2 separate regions of the Homo sapiens genome follow, and region 1 is linked to region 2. The links come from fine-mapping of genetic effects on gene expression. A gene starts in region 2. The other region holds a variant in brackets. All regions are shown on one strand. Distances are between the middles of the regions.

What was found. PIP is the estimated chance that this variant, and not a neighbour inherited with it, causes the effect. A credible set is the group of variants that fine-mapping cannot tell apart.
Region 1: its variant is the best candidate, but not a certain one, in a credible set for the expression of PLBD1-AS1 in whole blood (TOPMed, PIP 0.76).

What each region holds. Positions count from the first base shown.
Region 1 is chr12:14,515,221-14,525,883 of GRCh38, forward strand. All of the region lies in intron 6 of PLBD1 (phospholipase B domain containing 1), which reads right to left. Among named protein-coding and RNA genes, the nearest start is that of PLBD1-AS2, 9.6 kb to the right of the region's middle. The variant A/G (reference allele first, on the strand shown) is at 4,416.
Region 2 is chr12:14,561,483-14,572,145 of GRCh38, forward strand. PLBD1-AS1 (PLBD1 antisense RNA 1) reads left to right here and starts at 6,250. Exons shown (of 6, transcript NR_120465.1): 1 at 6,250-6,324; 2 at 6,537-6,710. PLBD1 (phospholipase B domain containing 1) reads right to left here and starts at 6,401. Exons shown (of 11, transcript NM_024829.6): 1 at 6,100-6,401. The coding sequence starts at 6,214. RefSeq lists silencers at 5,246-5,422, 6,162-6,271 and an enhancer at 5,667-6,348.

The sequences.
Region 1 (10,663 bases), 46 kb before region 2:
GGAAATCATCTTATGACCAGTTAATCAAGAAAAGTATGAAAACTAAGGTGGGATTTCTGGAAAGGTAGAAGGGAGGACACATCCTGATTTAGGTGGGGAAGATGATCAAGACAGGTCTGATCTGGCAGAAGACATCAGTGTTCTGGGATGGTACCAATGAGGAGACAAAGAATCAAAGAAAGGTACTTAAAAAAAAAACAGAAATTAAGTGCTGCAAAATCCATTTATAATTCTTTAGAATACGTGCCCGTATTCTGCTATTGCTTTTTTTTTCTTGGTTCTACCTTTTAAAAGCAAAGGACATGAATTTTGGTCTGTACTAAATATAGATTGTTTTTATATACTTCAGCTTTATGACCAAAGTACCTAGATCAAAGAGGTAACATGACATTAATAACAGTAATTACAGAACATTAAAAATGTTTACAACATATATTTATTAAATAGGCAATTTTATAGATTATGAAGACTTGACTTAAATTTTCCTGGAGCCTATTCTTTTATCTTCATGTGTACCTACTTTCAAGTACATGCACTTAATATTTAAAAAGGCCAAGCTGGCTCATGCCTGTAATCCCAGCACTTTGGGAGACCGAGGTGGGTGGTGAATCATTTGAGGTCAGGAGTTTGAGACCAGCCTGACCAACATGGTGAAACCCCATCTCTACTAAAAATACAAAAAAAAAAAAATTAGCCGGGCGTGGTGTAGTCCCAGCTACTTGGGAGGCTGAGGCACAAGAATTGCCTGAACCCAGGAGGCAGAGGTTGAATTGGCCACTGCACTCCAGCCTGGGCAACAGAGCGAGACTCCATCTCAAAAAAAAACAAGGCCGGGCACGGTGGCTCACGCCTGTAATCCCAGCACTTTGGGAGGCTGAGGCAGGTGGATCACAAGGTCAGGAGTTTGAGACCAGCCTGACCAACATGGTGAAACCCCGTCTCTACTAAAAATACAAAAATTAGCTGGGCACGGTGGCGCGCGCCTGTAATCCCAGTTACTCAGGAGGCTGAGGTAGGGGATTCGCTTGAACCCAGGAGGCGGAGGCTGCAGTGAGCCGAGATCGCGCCATTGCACTCTAGCCTCGGTGACAGAGCGACACTCCATCTCAAACAAAAACAAAAACAAACAAACAACAACAACAAAAAAGGCTAAGCAAAGATTTTGCTGCTTAGACCACAAGGGCTGCCATAGTCTCACAAACAGGATGGACTATGGATTCAGTATGCTAGGATGGTCTAGGGTGCTTGTTACAAATGTCCCAGCCCAGATCAATGAAATATGAATTTCTATGGATGACACTGCATTTTTAGCAAGCTCCATAGGAAAAATTGGGGAACATCTAAGTTTAAGAGGTATGTATACATGTATGGGGGAGGTGATAGCATACCTGTATATAATGAGAAGTAGGAACACACACACGCTTGGGGAAACACACTAAATGCATCCCAGAAAGCCTCACTTATAGATCATTAAGCTTGAAGCCTCAGCCTTATGGGGATCATCATTACTGGGATCCTCAATTAAAAGTCCTTTGAGGCCAGGCAAGGTGGCTTATGCCTGTAATCCCAGTACTTTGGCAGGCAGAGGAGGGCGGATCACCTGAGTTCAGGAGTTCGAGATTAGCCTGGCCAGCATGGAGAAACCCTGTCTCTACTAAAAATACAAAAATTAGCAGGGCATGGTGGCATACGCCTGTGGTCCCAGCTACTTGGGAGGCTGAGACACAAGAATCGCTTGAACCTGGGAGGCAGAGGTTGCAGTGAGCTGAGATCACGCCATTCCACTCCAGCATGGGCGACAGAGTGAGACGCCATCTCAAACAAAAAAAAAGTCCTTTAAATAGGTTCCATCTTTTATTCCCACATAGAAGCTCCACCCACCTGGCATGGCAGGAAATCCTTTGAGTTCACTGCTCTTTTAGTTTTTTGTTTGTGTTTGTGTTTTGAGACAGGCCATGCTCTGTCGCCCAGGCTGGAGTGCCGTGGCGTGATCAAGGCTCAAGGCAGCTTCAAACCCCCAGGATCAAAGGATCCTCCCACCAGGCCTCCTGAGTAGCTGGGGCTACAGGCATGCACCACCACACCTGGCTAAATTTTTTAATTTTTTGTAGAGACGGGGGTCTTGCTATGTTGCACAGCCTGGTCTCAAACTTCTGGGCTCAAGCGCTCCTCCTGCCTTGGCCTCTTAAAGTGCTGGGATTACAGGTGTGAGCCACCACACCCAGCCGGCTCTTTCAGTTTTAGCCATTTAATTTAAATCCAAACTGCATCATTTCTAAAAAAAAAAAGAAATGGATATTTATAGTTAGATATATTGCCTTTGCACCCAGTCCTCAACCACTGAATTGTGTGACCTTGACCTGTTTGACTATTTAACTTCTCTGAACTGTTTATTTTAAAAATGCAGACAAAATACCCTCCTTGAGGCTTTTTATGGAAGGCAGAATTTGTAAAAGTCAGTATGCTTTGCCTCTCGACTGCATTAACATGCCACAGGCTCAGACTGTTTTGTGTAAAGGATGTCAAAGAACTGCACTTTGTCTAAAGAGAAGTTTGATGTTTTGTATGCTTGTTAAGAAAATACAATACTAGAAGTTAATGGTAGACAACTGATTTTAAAAATACCCTTCTTGTTAGGTTTTTATGAACATTAAATGACATAATAAAAACAAAATGTTGGCCTGGCACAGTGGCTCACGCCTGTAATTCCAGCACTTTGGGAGGCTGAGGCAGGCGGATCACTTGAGGCCAGGAGTTCGAGACCAGCCTGGCCAACATGGTGAAACCGCGTCTCTACTAAAAATACAAAAATTAGCCGGGCGTGGTCACACACACCTGTAATCCCAGCTACTTGGAAGGCTGAGGCACGAGAATCACTTGAACCTGGGAGGCGGAGGTTGCAGTGAGCTGAGATCACACCACTGCACTCCATCCTGGGTAACAGAGTGAGATTCTGTCTCAGAAAACAAAACCCCCAAAACAGACAAAAACAAAATGTGCACAGTGTCAGGGACAGAGCCAGGTACATGGTAGGGGCTAAACACATATTCAGGTTTTTTGTTTTCCTTTCTATTTAATAACTAGTTGAACACAAACAAGCTTATAGTAATTTATTTAAAACTTAAATTCTGCCTAATTCCCATAAAACTAGTCAGGTCCCATTCATGTTATTTATCACAAAGGATTTGCTTCAAGTAACAAGTCCTGTGCTGAACACATAGGTTTTGCATCTGAAGTCCCTTGCTTACAATTCCTGAACATCTTAGACTCCTGTTCTCAAATCTAGGGTATGAAAGGGAGGGCAGGATGAATAGAAAGCAAGTTACAATAAGAACTGTGATCTCTTAGGCAGCCCCCACCTCCTCCTTGTTTTATTGCCCGTCTTTCTTTCCTACAGTTCCTACCATGTCCACATCAAAGTGGACATAATCTATCTCCTTACTGTTTTCCCTCTAATCCTTCTTTCTTCCTTCCTTCTTTTCTCCTTCCTTCCATAAATATTTATTCAATGATTATAATATGCAAGGCTCTGTGCTCATCCTGGGACACAGACATGAATACAGAATATGGGCTTTGAAGAAATTATGCACAGGGTACCTAGGAAGCTCAAAGGAGAGATAACTTACTTGGCCTGAAGGTTAGTAAAACCTTCTAAAAGGAGCTCTTGTGCTACTCTTTGTTAATATGAAAAGCACTAGGGTATTATGTATTACCCAGCCAAAAAAAAAATGCTCGTATCAAGGGTGAGTATTCCAATAATAGCAGCATGATAAAATTGAGTGATTTTCCCACAAATAATAATTATAAAACTGTATAAAATTATTTAAAGCAATGATCTGAAGATACTAGGAATGACCAAAGGCAGAGAGAAACAGAACATTAGTACAGCATTGGTTAAGATGGAGTATGAGGCTTCCTTGCCTGTGTGTATTCCTAAACCCGTGATATGGACTGAATTCTGTTTCCTCAAAATTCATATGTTGAAGTCTTAACCCCTAGTACCTGAAAATATGACTATATTTGGATACAGAGCATTAAAAAGGTAATTAAGGTCAACTGAGGTCATATGGGCAAACTCTAATTCAACATGACCGGTGTCCTTATAAGAAGAGGAAGTGAGCCGGGCGTGGTGGCTCATGCCTGTAATCCCAGCACTTTGGGAGGCCGAGGCAGGTGGATCATGAGGTAAGGAGATCGAGACCACCTGGCTAACAGGGCGAAACCCTGTCTCCACTAAAAATACAAAAAATTAGCCGGGTGTGGTGGCATGCACCTGTAGTCCCAGCTACTTGGGAGGCTGAGGCAGGAGAATCACATGAACCTGGGAGGCAGAGGTTGTGGTGAGCTGAGATCGCACCACTGCACTCCAGCCTGGATGACAGAGTGAGACATCATCTTAAAAAAAAAAAAAAAAA[A/G]AGGAGGAAGTGATGCCAGGTATAGCCCACACAGAGAAAAGGCCATGTGAGGACACAGTGAGAGGGTGGCCATCTGTAGGCCAAAGAGATAAACCAAACCTGTCAATATCTTGATCTTGGACTCTCAGCTTCTAGAACTGTGAGAATAATTAATTTCTGTTGTTTAAGCCACCCAGTCTTTGTCATGGCAGCCTTAGCAAACTAATATATAGCCCATACCCAACTCTAGTTATGGAAAACTAGAGCCATTCTGGCTTGAGATGGTGAGATCAAAGTCTAGTATTGCAGAACAGCTGAGAATTTAAGAGGAAAATTTTGGGAGCAAGAGAACCACAAGAAGAGCAGAGATCCAAAATCTGAATATGAACTGTGTCCTGTTCCCTGACTGACCACTAACTGTGCATGAATGTGGGAAATGCCAGGGAGCCCAGGGTAAAAACAGAAAGAAATGAGAAGGGTTTTCCCTTGTAAGACAGAAATGTTCTAGAACTGAGATAGGTGAGTTTGCTGCAACTTACACTGCCAGGGTTCCCAACTCATATGCAGCTCAAATTCCTCAGGCTCTCAGAGGACAAAGGTAAGAGCTGGAAAAGCAAATGGGAATATAGGGGAAACCTTAGGATCAAGGAAATCACAAAGAGAGTTAGCTCTATAATATGAATTTGAGCTGCCAACATCTTTCACTGACTGCTAAATTACACAGATGCAGGAGCAACCTCCAGAAGACCAGGTTGAAGCAGCAGTGTTGAGGAAGGACATTGGTTGCTGCACACTGTGCAGGTGACATATGTTGAAGTTTGAGTGCAAGCAAGGTAATTGCCTGTTAAAAACAACAACAAAAAAAGTAAAACAAGTGACTTCAGCAAGATGTCTGACTAGAGGTGCCTAACATTCATTTCCCTACAAAAAAAAAGGAACCAAAATGATGAATAAACAACTACATTTTGACTAGAGTATCCAAAGGAGAACACTAAAGTGTTCCGAAGGAGTACAATAAGGGAGGGGCAGAGACCCAGTGGAGCATGGAGACTTGGGATGGCTGCATAAAAAAGAGAATGAAACATTCTGCCTTTGCCACTTCGTCTTCCCAGTCAAGGTCGGTATGAAACCAGGAGGCAGTCTCCCTACGGAGAAAACGTGAGCAGGAGAACTCCCAGCAATCTCCATTAAAGATGCAAACACCTACAGTCTTTGCTGCTTGAGAATTCTGCAGTTTTCACAAGTCATGAACCCATTCTAGGGAGCTGCCTGGCATTCACATGGCTGTATTACTCCAAAGAATGAGCCCACATTGTGCCTCCTTCTCCTCTGTGATCTAAGCTGCTGATGTACAGCACTATCTTGAGACCGGTGCCACTACTATAGTACACTGTGCTCTGGAGGGCCAGTAACCACTGTTTGTTTCTCCCCATCCTGAGGCTCTGCTGCAAGTACACTGTGCTTGTAAACAGTAGCACACCACTCACCAGTTGAGCAGCTACTGTTTCCTATCCACCAGGAATAAGCTGCCTACGATGCACTCCATCTTCCCCATCCCTGTGGCACAGCACCTCAACCTCAATTACTCAGAGCATAGGCCCAGTGAAACAGCCATAACCTTGGTGCCTGAGCCCATGTGGTGTCCTGACGCCCAAGGAACAGATGATCCTACCCAGCAGGAAGGCCACACCTTACCCTGAAGGAGCAGTCCCTATGCACTTGCGGTGTGTGTAACAGCCTGGCACTCCTGCCCCCAGAGGACAGACTGTGTCTAATCCTATTGGAGTAGGCCTTGTGCACCCGTGGCGCATGAAACAAACTGGCACCCTTGCCACAAGCAGAAAAGCCATGCATATGATTTGACAGAGCTGCCATACAAACTCCTCCAGGCTAGGATGCCACTGAGGCATCCATAGAAATTGCTAACATTGACTACAGCTGAAAAAACTGCATGGTGACTACACTACTGCATCCACCTGGAACCACAGCCAATGCATCCTCCACAACCGACACCTTAGGACACATCTGCAGGCAAAAATCTTTTCCTATGATAACAACTCTATACAACTGGAAGAGGCATCCATTCTATCAGATGCCCAGACATCAGTGCAGGGACACAAGAAATATGAAAAAGCAAGAAAACATGATACCACCAAAAAAACACAATAACTCTCCCATAACTGACCTTAAAGAAATGGCAATTTACTAATTGCATAAAAAATTTAAAAATATGATCTTAAGGAAAATCAATGAGATTCAAGATAATATAGATAGGCAATTCAATAAAATCAGAAAAGCAAATCATGATATGAATAAAGAATTCAACAGAGATATCATTAAAAAAAAACTCTTGGAGCTGAAGACTTTAATGAATGAAATAAAAAATATAATGGAAAGTTCCAACAGCAGACTACACCAAGCAGAATAAAGAATTTCTGAACTGAAGACAGCTCTTTGCTTGAAGAGTGAAGAAAGCCTACAAGACCTATGAGACACCATTAAGTGAACACATTTTCACACTATAGAAACTTGAGAGGGAGAAGAGATGGAGAAGGGCACAGAAAGCTTCACAAAATAATAGCAGAAACTTCTTAAGTTTTGAGAGAGATATAGAGAACTCTATGCCAACAAATATGAAAACTTAGAAGAAATGGATAAATTCCTGGGCACATAAAACTTAACGAAAATTGAATCATGAAGAAATAGAAAATTTGAACAGACCAATAACAAGTAATGAGATTGAATTAGTAATAAAAAGTCTTCCAGAAAAGAAAAGCCGAAGACCCAATGGCCTCACTGATGAGTTCTACCAAACATTAAAGAAAAACTAATACAAATCCTTTGAAAACTATTCAAAAGACATGAAGAGGAGGGAATACTTCCAACATCTTTCTATGAGACCAGCATCACCCCGATTCCAAAACCTGATAAGGACACAACAAATAAATAAATCTATTGGCCAATATCCCTAATAAACCTAGATACAAAACTCCTCAAAAAAATATTTAAAAACTGAATTCAACAGCACATTAAGAAAAATCACTCACCATAATAAATGGGATTCATTCCAGGGATGCAAGGATGGTTCAATATATGCAAATCAATAAACATAATACATCATATTAACAGAATCAAGGACAAACCCATGAAGGGATGTTGAATCTATTGATCTAGAAAAGATATTTAATAAAATTCAACATCCCCTCATGATAAACACTCTCAACAAAACAGATATACAAGAAATGTAACTCAACACAATAAAGCCCATATATGACAAATTCACAGCTAGCATCATACTGAATGGGGAAAAGTTGAAAGCTTTTCCTCTAAGATCTGGAACAAGACACAAATGCACCACTTTTATTTAACATAATACTGGAGGTTCTAGCCAAAGCAATCAGGCAAGAGAAAGACAAAAAGAGCATCCAAATTGAAAAGGCAGAAATCAAACTGTCCCTGCTTCCAAATGACATAATCTTATACAGGGAAAACCCTGAAAACTTCACCAAAATACTGTTAGAACTAATAAGTAAATTGAGTACAGTTGCAGGATATAAAATCAATATACAAAAATCTATAGCATTTCTATATGACAATAGCAGACAATCAGAAAAAAATAAGAAGGCAATTCCATTTACTACAGCTACAAAAACAAACACTTAACTAAGCGGGTGAAAGATCTCTATGATGAAACCTATAAAATATTGACATAAGAAATGAAGAGGATACAAATGGAAAGATATTCCATGTTTACGGATTTGAGGAATTTTTAAAAAAATGTCCATACTAATCAAAGCAATTGACAGATTCAGTGCAATCTCTATCAAAATACCAATGACATTCTTCATAGAAAGAGAAAAAAATCTTTAAATGTGTATGGAACCTCAAAAGACCCCAAATAGTCAAAGCAATCTTGAGCAAAAAGAACAAAGCTGGAAACATCACACTACCTGGCTTCAAAATATACTACAAAGTTATAATAACCAAAACAGCATAGTACTGGCATAAAAATAGACATATATACTAATAAGACAGAATAAAAAATACAGAAATAAATTCACACACTTACAGCTAATTGATTTTTGACAAAGACACTAAGAACACACATTGGAAAAAATTCTCTTTGATAAATGGTGCTTGGAAAACTGGGTATCTACATGGAGAGGAATGAAACTAGACCCCTTGCTGGGTATTTATCCAAAGGAAATGAAATAAGTATGTTAAAGAGATATCCACACTCTCATGCTTATTGCAGCACTATTCACAATAGTCAAGATATGGAATCAACCTAAATGGCTATCAACAGATGAATGGATAAAGAAAATATGATACATATACATATAATGGAATACTATTCAGCCATAAAAAGGATCAAATTATGTCATGTGTAGCAATGTGGATGAGCCCTGAGGGCATTATGTTAAATGAAATAAGCCAGGCACAGAAAGACAAATACTCCACAATCTCACTCAGATGTGGAATCTATAAAAGCCGATCTCATACAAGTATAGAGAAGAACAATGCTTACCAGCAGCTGGGGAGGGTAGGCAAGGTGGAAAGGGCTTAATCAACAGGTACAAAATTACAGTTAGATAGAAGGAGAAAGTTGCGGTATTCTATTGCACAGTAGGCTTACTATAGTTAACAATACTATATTATATATTTTAAATAACTAGAAGAGAGATTTTTGAATGTCCTTACCATTAGAAAGTGATAAATGTTTGAAGTGATGAATATTCTAAATACCATGATTTGTTCACTACACAATGTATACATGCATCAAAACATCACACTGTCCCCTATAAATATGTACAATTATATGTCATTTAAAAATAAAATAAAACATAATTCTCAAAAATACACATTTCAGAGACACTATGGTGTGCTATTTTTCAAGTCCACATTTCAACCAAAAATTACCAGGCACTACAGTTAACAATATTGTGTTACATATTTCAAAATAACTATAAAAGAGGATTTTGAACGTTCTTGCCATAAGGAACTGATAAATGTTTGCGGTGAAGAATATACTAAATATGTATATACATTGTGTAATGATCAAGTCATGGTATTTGCTATATTTGTCACCTCAAAAGAAAAAGGAAGGTACGACCCCACACTTAAGTCACTGGAAACTGTTTCCAAGTAGGTCTTGATATTGGGTTTAGCGGACAAAGACAAAACAGGAAAATATGGTTTTAAGAGTTACCAGAGAGGGAATCTCAACATAAAATTAGAAATTAAAGAAAGAACAAAATTGAAATTCTAGATCTGAAAAGTACAGTAAATGAAATGAAAAACTCACTGTATACTTCAACAGTAAATTTGAGATGGCAGAAGAAGGAATTAGAAAACCTGAAGATTGTGGCTGGGCATGGTGGCTCACGCCTGTAATCCCAGCACTTTGGGAGGCCAAGGCGGGTGGATCACCTGAGGTCAGGAGTTGGAAACCAGCCTGGCCAACATGGTGAAACTTCATCTCTACTAAAAATACAAGATTAGCCCAGTGTAGTGGTGCATGCCTATAATCCCAGCTACTTGGGAGGCTGAGGCAGGAGAATCGCTTGAACCTGGGAGGTGGAGGTTGCAGTGAACTGAGATCGCATCACTGAACTCCATCCTGGGCAACAATAGTGAAACTTCATCTCAAAATAAATAAATAAATAAAATAAAATAAACAAAAAATAAAACAAAGAAAACCTGAAGATAGAAGATTAATGGGAATCATCCAATCTGAAGAACAGAGAGAAAAAGAAAACTAAATAAAATTTACAAAGCCCCAAAGACTTGTGCAAAAATGTTTAGCATCTGATGGATAAATGACTGGAGTCCCAGAGGGAGAAGAGAGAGAAAAGAGGATGGAAAAAATATGTGAAGCTATAACTGGTGAAAAACCCTTACATTTAATGAAAAACATTAATTTGCAGTTCCTACCAGCACAACAAACTTAAAATACAATAATCACAAAGAAGACCAGAGCTAGCCCACGACAAAGCTGAAGTCACCAAAAATCTAAATGCAGAAAAAAATTAGAGAGGAAAATAATATACTTAACAGCTTACTTCTCAACACACACACACACACACACACACACACACACGCACACACACACTTGTTTTAATTTTTTAAAAGACAGTAAGTTTTTAAGTAAAAAATCATAACACCATATTGGTGTATTTATAACATATATAGATGGAGCATATATATGACAACAATAGCACAAAGGATGGAAGGCACTAAATGGGATAATTACCATTTTAAGTTCCTAT
Region 2 (10,663 bases):
CTCACATTTCATTGTATCCACTCCCTTGGGCCTAGCACAATGCTTTATGGATTACGTGGCCACCTGGATCCCCAACTTTCTTTTGTTTTGAGACAGAGTTTCGCTCTTGTTGCCAAGGCTGGAATGCAATGGCACGGTCTCGGCTCACCGCAACCTCCGCATCCCGGGTTCAAGCAATTCTCCTGCCTCAGCCTCCTGAGTAGCTGGGATCACAAGCGTGCGCCACGCCACACCTGGCTAATTTTGTATTTTTAGCAGAGACGGGGTTTGTCCATGTTGGTCAGGCTGGTCTCGAACTCTCAACCTAAGGTGATCTGCCTGCCTTGACCTCCCAAAGTCTTGGGATTACAGGCGTGAGCCACTGCACCTGGCCTGGATCCCAAACTTTCACACTGGCTGGGAAGGTCACACCTGGTGACAGACTTTATCAAGTTATATAAACTTGATAGTACAGTCATTCTCGATTTCTAATTATGAATTAGAACTTTGGTGTCCTAGGTTTGCAAATGACCTGAAAGAGAATAACACCGGTGTGAATAACTTGACACTCCCTTATGCTGAAATTATTACTGCATATGCAAGGCAGATGGACAAATTTCAGAGCCAGCCTGTCTCTTTCGTTGAAGTGCTCATTCTGTTTTCATCTCTCTCAATCAAGAGACTTCCACAGTTTTCTCTAGGAAGACTGTATCATGGCCAGGTGTGGTAGCTCATGCCTGTAATCCCAGCACTTTGGAGGCCAAGGCAGTCTGATCACCTGAGGTCAGGAGTTTGAGACCCACCTGCCCAATATGGTGAAACTCCCGTCTCTACTTAAAAATACAAAAATTAGCCAGGTGCGGTGGCACATGCTTGTAATCCCAGCTACCTGGGAGGCTGAGGTAGGAGGATCGCTGGAACCCAGGAGGTGGAGGTCACAGTGAGTTGAGATTGCAGCACTGCGGTCCAGCCTGAGTGACAGAGTGAGACTCCCTCTCAAAAAAAAAAAAAAAAAAAAGACTGTAACTGAACATGATTATGTTATCTGTGTAGACAGTGTTTCAAGTCTTAAGCTAAAATTTCCCCATAATTTCACTACCTCTATTTCATTTTTTACCACATTAATTCCTGTTTTGCAGTAGTAAAAAGAAGCTCCGTAATAACATTATTAACACATTTTCTAGTCACATTTTCAAGCTGGATGTTCGAAAGATTGTAACATATAAGTTGTATAAACTAGACTCCATTCCATTTTTTTGAAAGGCAAAACCTAAATGCATAAAAATTACTTAAAATGCTGAAGAAAATAAATCCCTTTGGTTTTATTCCATGAAGGGTACCACTACCTCTTTTATTTTGCTGTCTCCATAGTTAATGCCTTATAATGTGAAATCTAACAAAAGCAAAGGATAACAAGTGACAATGTAAAATTCATGTCTAAAGAAGTATGAAAACAAAAATTTCTTTTCTGCATGTCAACACTCAAGACAAAGTTCATATGTTTCTTAGCATATATATTATAAAAATAAGCCACCATGAATTTTTTTTAAAAAAATTGTTTTACTTCAATGTAAACACTGAAGGAGGATCCTTTTAAATATTCTTCTAAAGATTTTTATCTTTGCTACCAAATTTATGTTTTCAGAAGGACCAGGAAACAAAGTTTAATAATGAAGATAAGTGGGCACTTCCTTCAGACTTTGTTCTGGAATTTATCTTGTGTACATTATGCAAACAAGTTGATAAAGGGAGAGCACAAGAAAATGTTCAAGTTGGGACTGGGCACGATGGCTCACACCTGTAATCTCAGCACTTCGGGAGGCCAGGGCAGGCGATGCACTTGAGGCCAGGAGTTTGAGACCAACCTGGGCAAAATGGTGAACCTCATCTCTACAAAAAATACAAAAATCAACCAGGCATGGTGGTGCATGCCTGTATCCCAGTTACTCGGGAGGCTGAGGCATGAGAATCACTTGAACCTGGGAGGCGGAGGTTGCACGGAGCCAAGATCGCGCCTTTGCACTCCAGCTTGGGCAACAGAGCAAGACTCTGTCTCAAAAAAACAACAAAAAAAAAATTACTTCAAAGCACATGGATTATCATCTTCAATCCTGCCTGCCTTATCAAGACATGATAACTTTTTAGAGAAAAACAACTTCAGTGGCCACTCAATTATACAGCACTTACTGCATGTCAGGCACAGTGTTTCTCACAACAGCCCCATGAGATAGAGACACTTATAATACCCATCTTCCAGTTGAGGAAACCAAAGTACATATAGAGAAAATAACTGACTAAAGGTCACATGGCAAGTGTTGGAGTCAGGCTTCAAACACAGGCATTAGGGTTCCAAAGGATTTCCTCTTGCTGGAATTCTGTGTTACCTCTCTAATACTATACTTCCAAGAATGAAGGACTTCCGTGTAAAGAATGAACATACTGAGCAACTGTGAGGCCTTATGTCGAATGAATTTGGAAATAAGAATGTCCTCAGAGACCAGGTGCAGTGGCGGTCGCCTGAACCCCAGGGCTTTGGGAAATGAACCTGTGGGAGGATCACTTGCGAGCAAGAGTTTGAGATCAATCTGGGTAACATAGTGAGACTCTATCTCTACAAATAATTTTTTTTTTTAATTAGCCAAGTGTGGTGGTGTGCACCTGTAGTCCCATCTACTCTGAGGCTGCAATGAGCTATGATCGTACCATTGTACTCCAGCCTGGGTGACAGAGCAAGGCCCTATCTCCAAATAAATGAATAAATAAGAATGTCTGCAGAGTTAAAGGAGCAACTGAAATTGACCCCAGTCATAGGTCTGCCAAATCAGCTTATGGAGACTGAATGTTCCAGGATATTAAACTTTTTGACAACCAGATAAAGGTATTAACTGTTATTCTCAAGTGGACACTGGTAAGCCATGGCAATGTGGAAAAGGCAGTGTCCCAAAATCAGGGACCAGCAATGCTAGGCAAGCACCATGCAGTGGAGGGGCACTCTCTCGGCTGACTCAAGTGTATGATGCCTACCAGGAGACAGACAAATCAGGCCTCCAGCCTGACAATCTGTGATGTTATCTACCCCCATGTGGTTTGATTACAGTGAGAAAGTGCCTAGAGCAGACCTCACAAATATCCAGTCTGCCTGACAGTTATATTTCTAACTAAAAATTATGCTAAGTCTGATGAATAGACTTGGGTGTATATCAGGGTGAATCAGCTTTCTTAGCTGTGATCAGATATGGAGCAGTAGAAAGACTGAATTTCTGGAGTCTAGCCCTGCAAGGCCGAGGGCCAGATTCTGAACCAGTTTTACCAATATACATACCATATTATGAGTCTCTCAGCAGCCAACCCTAAAAGAATGTCTGCAGAGTTAAAGGATCAACTGAAACTGACTCCAATCATAGGTCTGCCAAATCACCTTATGGAGACTGAATGACTTCCAAGATGTTAAACTTTTTCAGAACCAGATAAAGGTATGATTTATTTCTCTAGTGACCACCTGACTTCTCTATACATACCACTTAGAAAAAATTATATAAGGACCTTCTAAAATCAATTATGGGGCTTTTGGTCTGGAAAGATAAACGCAACACCATATGTCTGAAATCATAGCTTGAAAGATTTGGCTAGAATGACTGTGCAATTATTTGTCAACTTCTGGAATAATAAAACTATAGAGTAACCTTTACAAATTGAAGAATATGCAAGAATTAACTAAAAGTGTCCGGGCATGGTAGCTCACACCTGTAATCCCTGCACTTTGGGAGGCTGAGGCGGGCAGATCACCTGAGGCCAGGAGTTCGAGACTAGTCTGTCCAACCTGTTGAAATCCCATCTCTACAAAAAATATAAAAATTAGCTGGGCGTGGTGGTGTGTGCCTGTAATCCCAGCTACTCGGGAGGCTGAGTCAGGAGAATTGCTTGAACCAAAGAGGTGGAGGTTGCAGTGAGCCGAGATCACGCCACTGTACCCAGCCTGGGGGGAAAATAAAAATAATAGGAAATAATAGTAAAAAAAAAAAAAAGTAAAATTAAAAATTGAAGAAGTTGTTTTTGGATAGATAGATGCATATGAGTGGATATAAAATCCATTCCAAGGGGATGGACATGCAATCCCTTTAGTGTTTACTGAATTCCTACTAAGTTCAGGGTACTGAGCTGGGTACTTCAGAGAACACATGACAAGTGAGAGGTAGCAAGTCCCAGTTCTTTACTCTTTGGTTGTTCGCAGGCTAGTAGAAGGGTAAAGACAAAGACCCAAAAAGCCTCAAGGGAAAACAGATTAATGTGGGTAGGACAAAGGAAACAGAGATCTCATCTGCTGAAATAGTGTGGCATCACCAGATGTCCTTAACACCTAGGTAAGTAAGAATCCTTTCCAGATTGCTGGGCATGGTGCTGTCAGGATCACTTCATCTCAGAAATGTCCTTACTTTCTGCCTTGGCTCCAGAACCTCCAAGCATGGAGTCAGCTTCCTGTTGGAGGAACTGTTTAAGATGCAGTTTCTTACAAGGTGGTACCTTCTTGAATAAATAGTGCTCCATCTTCAGAAAAACAACGCCTGTCTCACTCCTCAGGCTGCCCCCTCCACCTACAAAAACACTTAATCTCACTCGTCCAAAAAAACAGAAAAGGAATAAAGATTTTAGCCAGCATTCCAAACACAAAAGCTACCTCCACTTTTGGGACCCTCCCCAGCCTCCCCCAGGTACCTCTGAATGAGCTGTCTCCCTAGACTAGAAGTAGACACCAAGGCCACCTCCATAGTTTAGGCAAAGAACACAGAAAATCACGAGTCAGGAGCCTGTGGGTACATCTGATCCCACAGACTGGAAAGATTTAAGATTGAAGAGTGATAACTAAGCAAGTCTCAAAAACGAAGGCTCTTGATGATGGAAGGTAGTGTAATAAGAATCAGTACACATATTTAGGAAGGGGCATCCTCCCCCAAGCCCCACCCTACTCTTGTACAAGGTCAGCACAGAAAAGGGGATTATGAAATAAGACAAAATTAATTCTCTTATTATTACTTTAGAATTCTTTCAAGTCCCTTAGTTACAGTTCATAATCTTCACCTCCTTAGGAACGGAAATCATAAATCCAAGGCTTTTTAATTTAATTTAATTTAATTTTGGCAAAGGATGTAGATTTGCATGAATACCTGTAGAGATAAAACCTGTTTTTCCAAGAGGGAAGTAGTTAAGAAAATGCCCTCTGGCATCCCCTAACTCTGTCTTATTTGCTGTGTTATCTTTATGCGAATTACTTCTGATCAATCTCACTTTTCTCATCTGCAGAATGGGGAATATAATCCTATTTAGGATTATATATTAAAAAAAAAAAAAAAAAACTGCCGGGCGCGGTGGCTCATGCCTGTAATCCCAGCACTTTGGGAGGCCGAGGCAGGCGGATCGCCCGAGTCAGGCGTTCGAGACCAGCCTGTCCAACATGGTGAAACCTCGTCTCTACTAATAATGCACAAATTAGCTGGGCATGGTGGCTGACGCCTGTAATCCCAGCTACTTGGGAAGCTGAGGGAGGAGAATCGCTTGAACCCGGGAGGCGGAAGTTGCAGTGAGCCGAGATCACACCATTGCACTCCAGCGTCGCCCACAGAGAGCGACTCTGTCTCAACAACAACAACAAAACCAAAAGGCCCTTAAGCCCACTGCCAGGCACGTATCAAACTGACAATCGTGCAATCGTGATTTTAAGCCAAAGTCAATGTAAATTTTTAAAACACAAAACAAATGGCAAGCCGGAACCATACCTCCCTACAATCTGGATAAATATATTTAGATGCCCATTGGCTGGAGTTTTTAAGACCAGCCCAGGCTCTGTGGGCCAAGAATCGGCGCAGGAGCGAACCGATTTGTTGGCCAAGAATTCGGGCCAAAACTTGTAAAGTTGGCAGACGCACTCGCCATGCCCTTCTCAAGTGCCCTCGCTGCGCAGCCGCAGGGCTGGAGCGAGACCGCCGGCCGGAGGCGCGTTTCTCTGAGTTCACCCAGGAACCAGACGCCCGCTGGACGTCAACTCGGCCGGACGCGGGGCACGGGCGCTAACAGGCTCCTAGGAGCCTCCCCGGGCGCCCCCCGCCCAGGGCGCGCTCTGCTCACCTGCAGGTTTCGGCGGCTCCGCGGTGACTAACAACAGCGGCAGCAGCAGCAGCAGCAGCAGAAGCGGTGGCGGCTGTGGCAGCCCCGGGCGCCCGCCCGGACCGCCGCGGGTCATCGCTCCACGGCCGCGACCTTCCTCTGCGGGATCAGGCGGCCGCGGTGGCCCGCGGTGGCAGAAGTTGCAAGAGAGGCTCCTGGCCTACTCAGGGGCGCCGCCTCTCCGAGGTGGGGCGTCCTCAACTTTCCTCTTTCTTGAGCCCGGCCTGCTCCGGGCTCTGAGGGGCGAGGACGCTTCACGTGGTGGCCTGGGGCCCACCCCGCCTAGGAAAGGCGGATCCTTTACGTCTGACCCTCTAGCAACCCCTGGGCCGGTCTGGGAAAGTTCCCCAGCTGCACTTCTGGGAAATGCAGAGGCTGCCTGCCGCTTTCTTTCGCAGTTTTGCGGCCCAAGGCTTGGGCGAATCAGTTCACATCAACACCCCTACTAGCCTCTCCCTCCGGGGTCGACCATTTATCTCCAGCAGCGGACCAGGCGCCCGGGCCAGGGTGACATGCGCGCCCTGCCTACACGCAGCTCGGATCCTCTGCTGTTTCTGGAGAGGCCTCCACAGGTGCGTTTTCCTCAGCGATTAGCGTACCCCTCATTCCCAGGCTGTTTAACCTAAATCCATGCGCTGTAGCTCAGATTTTTTATCCTTTTTGCTTCCTCTTCGTTGGCTGGAGCCACCACAGGAGAGTGATTCAGACGGGGCTGACACTAGACACACTCCTACGTTTCTGTGGAGTCCCCATTTCTGTGTGGGGTCAGTTAAAAGTGACATTGTGAAGTAGTCAAAAGTTATGCCTTGGGTGATATTGTGAAGTTGGCACCGGGTGCCCTAGGTGACATTGTGAAGTAGGCAAAAGGCATTTCATTCATTCACTCAGCATTGGCTGGGCCCATCTTATACTCCAGATACCAGTGATATAAAGACAGCTAAGAGCATGCCTCACCACAGACAAAAAGAACTAAGCCAGCCGGGCGCCGTGGCTCACGCCTGTAATCCCAGCACTTTGGGAGGCCGAGGCGGGCAGATCACGAGGTCAGGATATCGAGGCCATCCTGGCTAACACGGTGAAACCCCGTCTCTACTAAAAATACAAAAAATTAGTCGGACACGGTGGCGGGCGCCTGTAGTCCAGCTACTTGGGAGGCTGACGCAGGAGAATGGCGTAAACCCGGGAGGCGGAGCTTGCAGTGAGCCGAGATCGCGCCACTCTACTCCAGCCTGGGCGACAGAGCGAGATTCGTCTCAAAAAAAAATAATAATAATAACAATAATAATTTTTTTAAAAAAGAACTAAGCCATATAGATAAACAAGTACACAGAACTTGCCATTCTACTGTGTTAGAGCTATGTTTAAGGTGCAGTGGGAGAGGGGGAAGGAGGGAACAAGCCACCTCTCAGATGGGAACCTCAGCACCCCACTCTTCCTCTTGGCCTTTCTTCTAAGCTTAACCTAGGTGTCAAGGAGAGATGAGAAGAGAGAATAAGCAGTACCTTTCATAACGGGGAAAATGTAATTGTTAGAAAAGATAAAGAACCTAAAAGTTCATCAAATCTCTGTGCAAATTGTGAAACACAAGTCACAATTTTGTGGTCCAGGCACCATGGCTCATGCCTGTAATCCCAACACTTTGGGAGGCCAAGGTGGGAGGATCACCGGAGCCCAAAAGTTCAAGACAAGCCTGTGCCACACAGGGAGACTCCAACTCATTTTTATTTAATTAAAATTAAAGTCACAATTATGTTTAATGGCATTTAATGAATGAAGACATCGAGGACATTGTAAAAGTTGCACATTTTCCTTCAAGTTAGAAAATTAAAATGAAGAAAAATTAAAACGAAGACATCGAGGACATTGTAAAAGTTGCACATTTTCCTTCGTTAGAAAATTTAAATGAAGAAAAATTAAAATGAAGACATCGAGGACATTGTAAAAGTTGCACATTTTCCTTCAAGTTAGAAAATTAAAATGAACCAAAAATGAAAATTTTGGTTGTGTTATGATGGGAAGAGAACCACATTAGGATGTTCAAGGAAGTGGTGCCACCCCAAATATTTGAGTCATATTGCCCTATACCACCCTCCTTCACCTTACTAACCCTTCTGATCCAAGGAGCCAAGTGTTCTGATGAAGTAAGATGCATATAAATGCCTAATGTGAACCTTGAGGCATTCATTCATCTATTATTTGTCATCAAATATTCGTTGACTCCCATGTTCCAAGCACAGAGCAGTAGACAAAACAAAGTCCCTGCCCTTGCAGAGCTTGCATTCCAGTAGTGGGGAGCAAATTATACATATAAACAAATTAATTGGATCAGGACTTCTCCACATCAGCACTATTGAAATTTTGGAGCAGACAACTCTTTGTTGTGGGGGGGTTGTCCTGGACACCCCTTGGCCTTTACCTACTGGATGCTAGTGGCACCCCCATTGAAAATGTCTCCAGACATTGTCAAATGCTCCCGTAGGGGGGCAAAATTGCCCCCTAGTTGAGAATCACTGAATTAGATGATAAATCTTGCTTTCTTTAAATTATGCCAGTTTTACATATCTGGGAGGAAAATGAGCTGCAAAACTCACACATAGTTAGGAAAATAAATCTTGGGACCCCAAAATCACTAAGCCAAGGGAAAAGTCAAGCTGGAAACTATGTCAGGCAAACCTGCCTCTCATTTTATTCTGAAATAAGATAGCTACAAAGATAAGAAGCTACATACCTCCCTCACAGTTTGCCCACAAGGAAATTCCCTGTGGACAAAGGGAAGACAGAACTTAAAAGTCATCCCTCTGAGGCTCACCTGAGACAAATGCACATCTGATTGCTTCCTCTGCAGTATTGTTTATGTAAAAATGCAGACTCCCTGGGCCAGACTAAGTTGTGTATTCTGTGGAAGGCTGATCAAGGATTCAAAAGAATGTAACATTTTGTCTCTTTTCTACTTCTAACATGGAATACCCCACTTTGAGTTGTCTCGCCTTACCATACTGAACCAATGTACATCTTACACGTATTGACTGATGTCTCATATCTCCCTAAAATGTATAAAAGTAAGCTGTACCCCGACCACGTTAGGCACATGTTGTCAGGACCTCCTGAGGCTGTGGCCCTGGTGTGTCCTTAACTTTGGCAAAATAAACTTTCTAAATTGACTGAGACCTGTCTCAGATTTTTTGGATTCACATACTAAAGCTGCAATGAGGAGAACCAAAGATGCCAGCTGCGAAATGTTCTCATCACTTCTATAATGGACTTGTGTGGTTTGGGGCTACTCAGCGTCCATTATTCTCTTCCTGTACCAACTTTTGGTGCAGGAATGCCAACTTTTGGTGAGCCAAGGGTGGAGGTGTTTCTACCAGGAGACACAATAAGGAAGTATTATTGAATTGGAATTTGAAAGTGCATTACTGAATTGCAATTGGTCTTTTTTGAGCTCCTCTTAAAACATAAAAATATGTTTGAATGGTTAAGAATAGGATTGTAGTATTGGTAATTTTGCCTTACTATCAAAAGGAGTAGGAGCATTGGATGCGGTGGCTCACTCCTGTAATCCCAGCACTTCAGGAGGCCGAGTTGGGTGGATCACTTGAGATCAGGAATTCGAGACTAGCCTGGCCAACATGGTGAAACCTCGTCTCTACTAAAAATACCAAAAATTAGCTGGGCATAGTGGCTCATGACTGTAATCCCAGCTACTTGAGAGGCTGATGCAGGAGAATCAGTTGAACCCAGGAGGCAGAGGTTGCAGTGAGCTGAGATCGCACCACTGCACTCCAGCCTGGATGACAGAGAGAGATTCCATCTCAAAAAACCAAAACCAAAACAAAATGAAAGGACTGGGAGCATAATCTCACCTGGGAAGCACCACTGGGGACTCAGACTCCTCATCCCAATGGGCAAAGAATCCCAGCAGCTGAGTTGCTGGCCCAAAGCAAGGGGAACATGGAAAAAAGGTGGAGAAGAGAAGTCACATATAATTATCTATAGCCAGGTGACCAGTTGCAGAAACAAAGATAGTGGTCTCTATTGGCCTCTATATTTCTTTCCTTGCTGTAACATGTATGTGGTGGATTGAAAATTTTACAGTTACAGTTCCAGAATGAAATATCCAAAATGTAAATTTGTTTCTTTTCCAAAAAAGTGTAATTAACTTAGCATTCAAACACATCCACTGATGGTAATTTTTTTTTTTTTTTAATTTTTTGTAAGACAGGATCTCACTATGTTGCTCAGGCTGGTCTCAAATTCCTGGGCTCAAGTGATCCTCCCACCTTGGCCTTCAAAAATGCTGGGATTACAGGTGTGAGTCCAACCAGTAAAAATTTTTAAATACCAGATTTAAGGTTGCGCAATTTCATTTGGACCAAATCCTTAGTGTCCTTTGCCTTCTTTATGTCCTTACCATTTTTCCTTAAGGATGACCTTAGCTTCGGGGGCTTATGTATTGACTTGGTACTAAATAAGGGACATTTACTCTGTGAGTCATACTCTTGGCTTAGTGGCCTCCACTAAGATA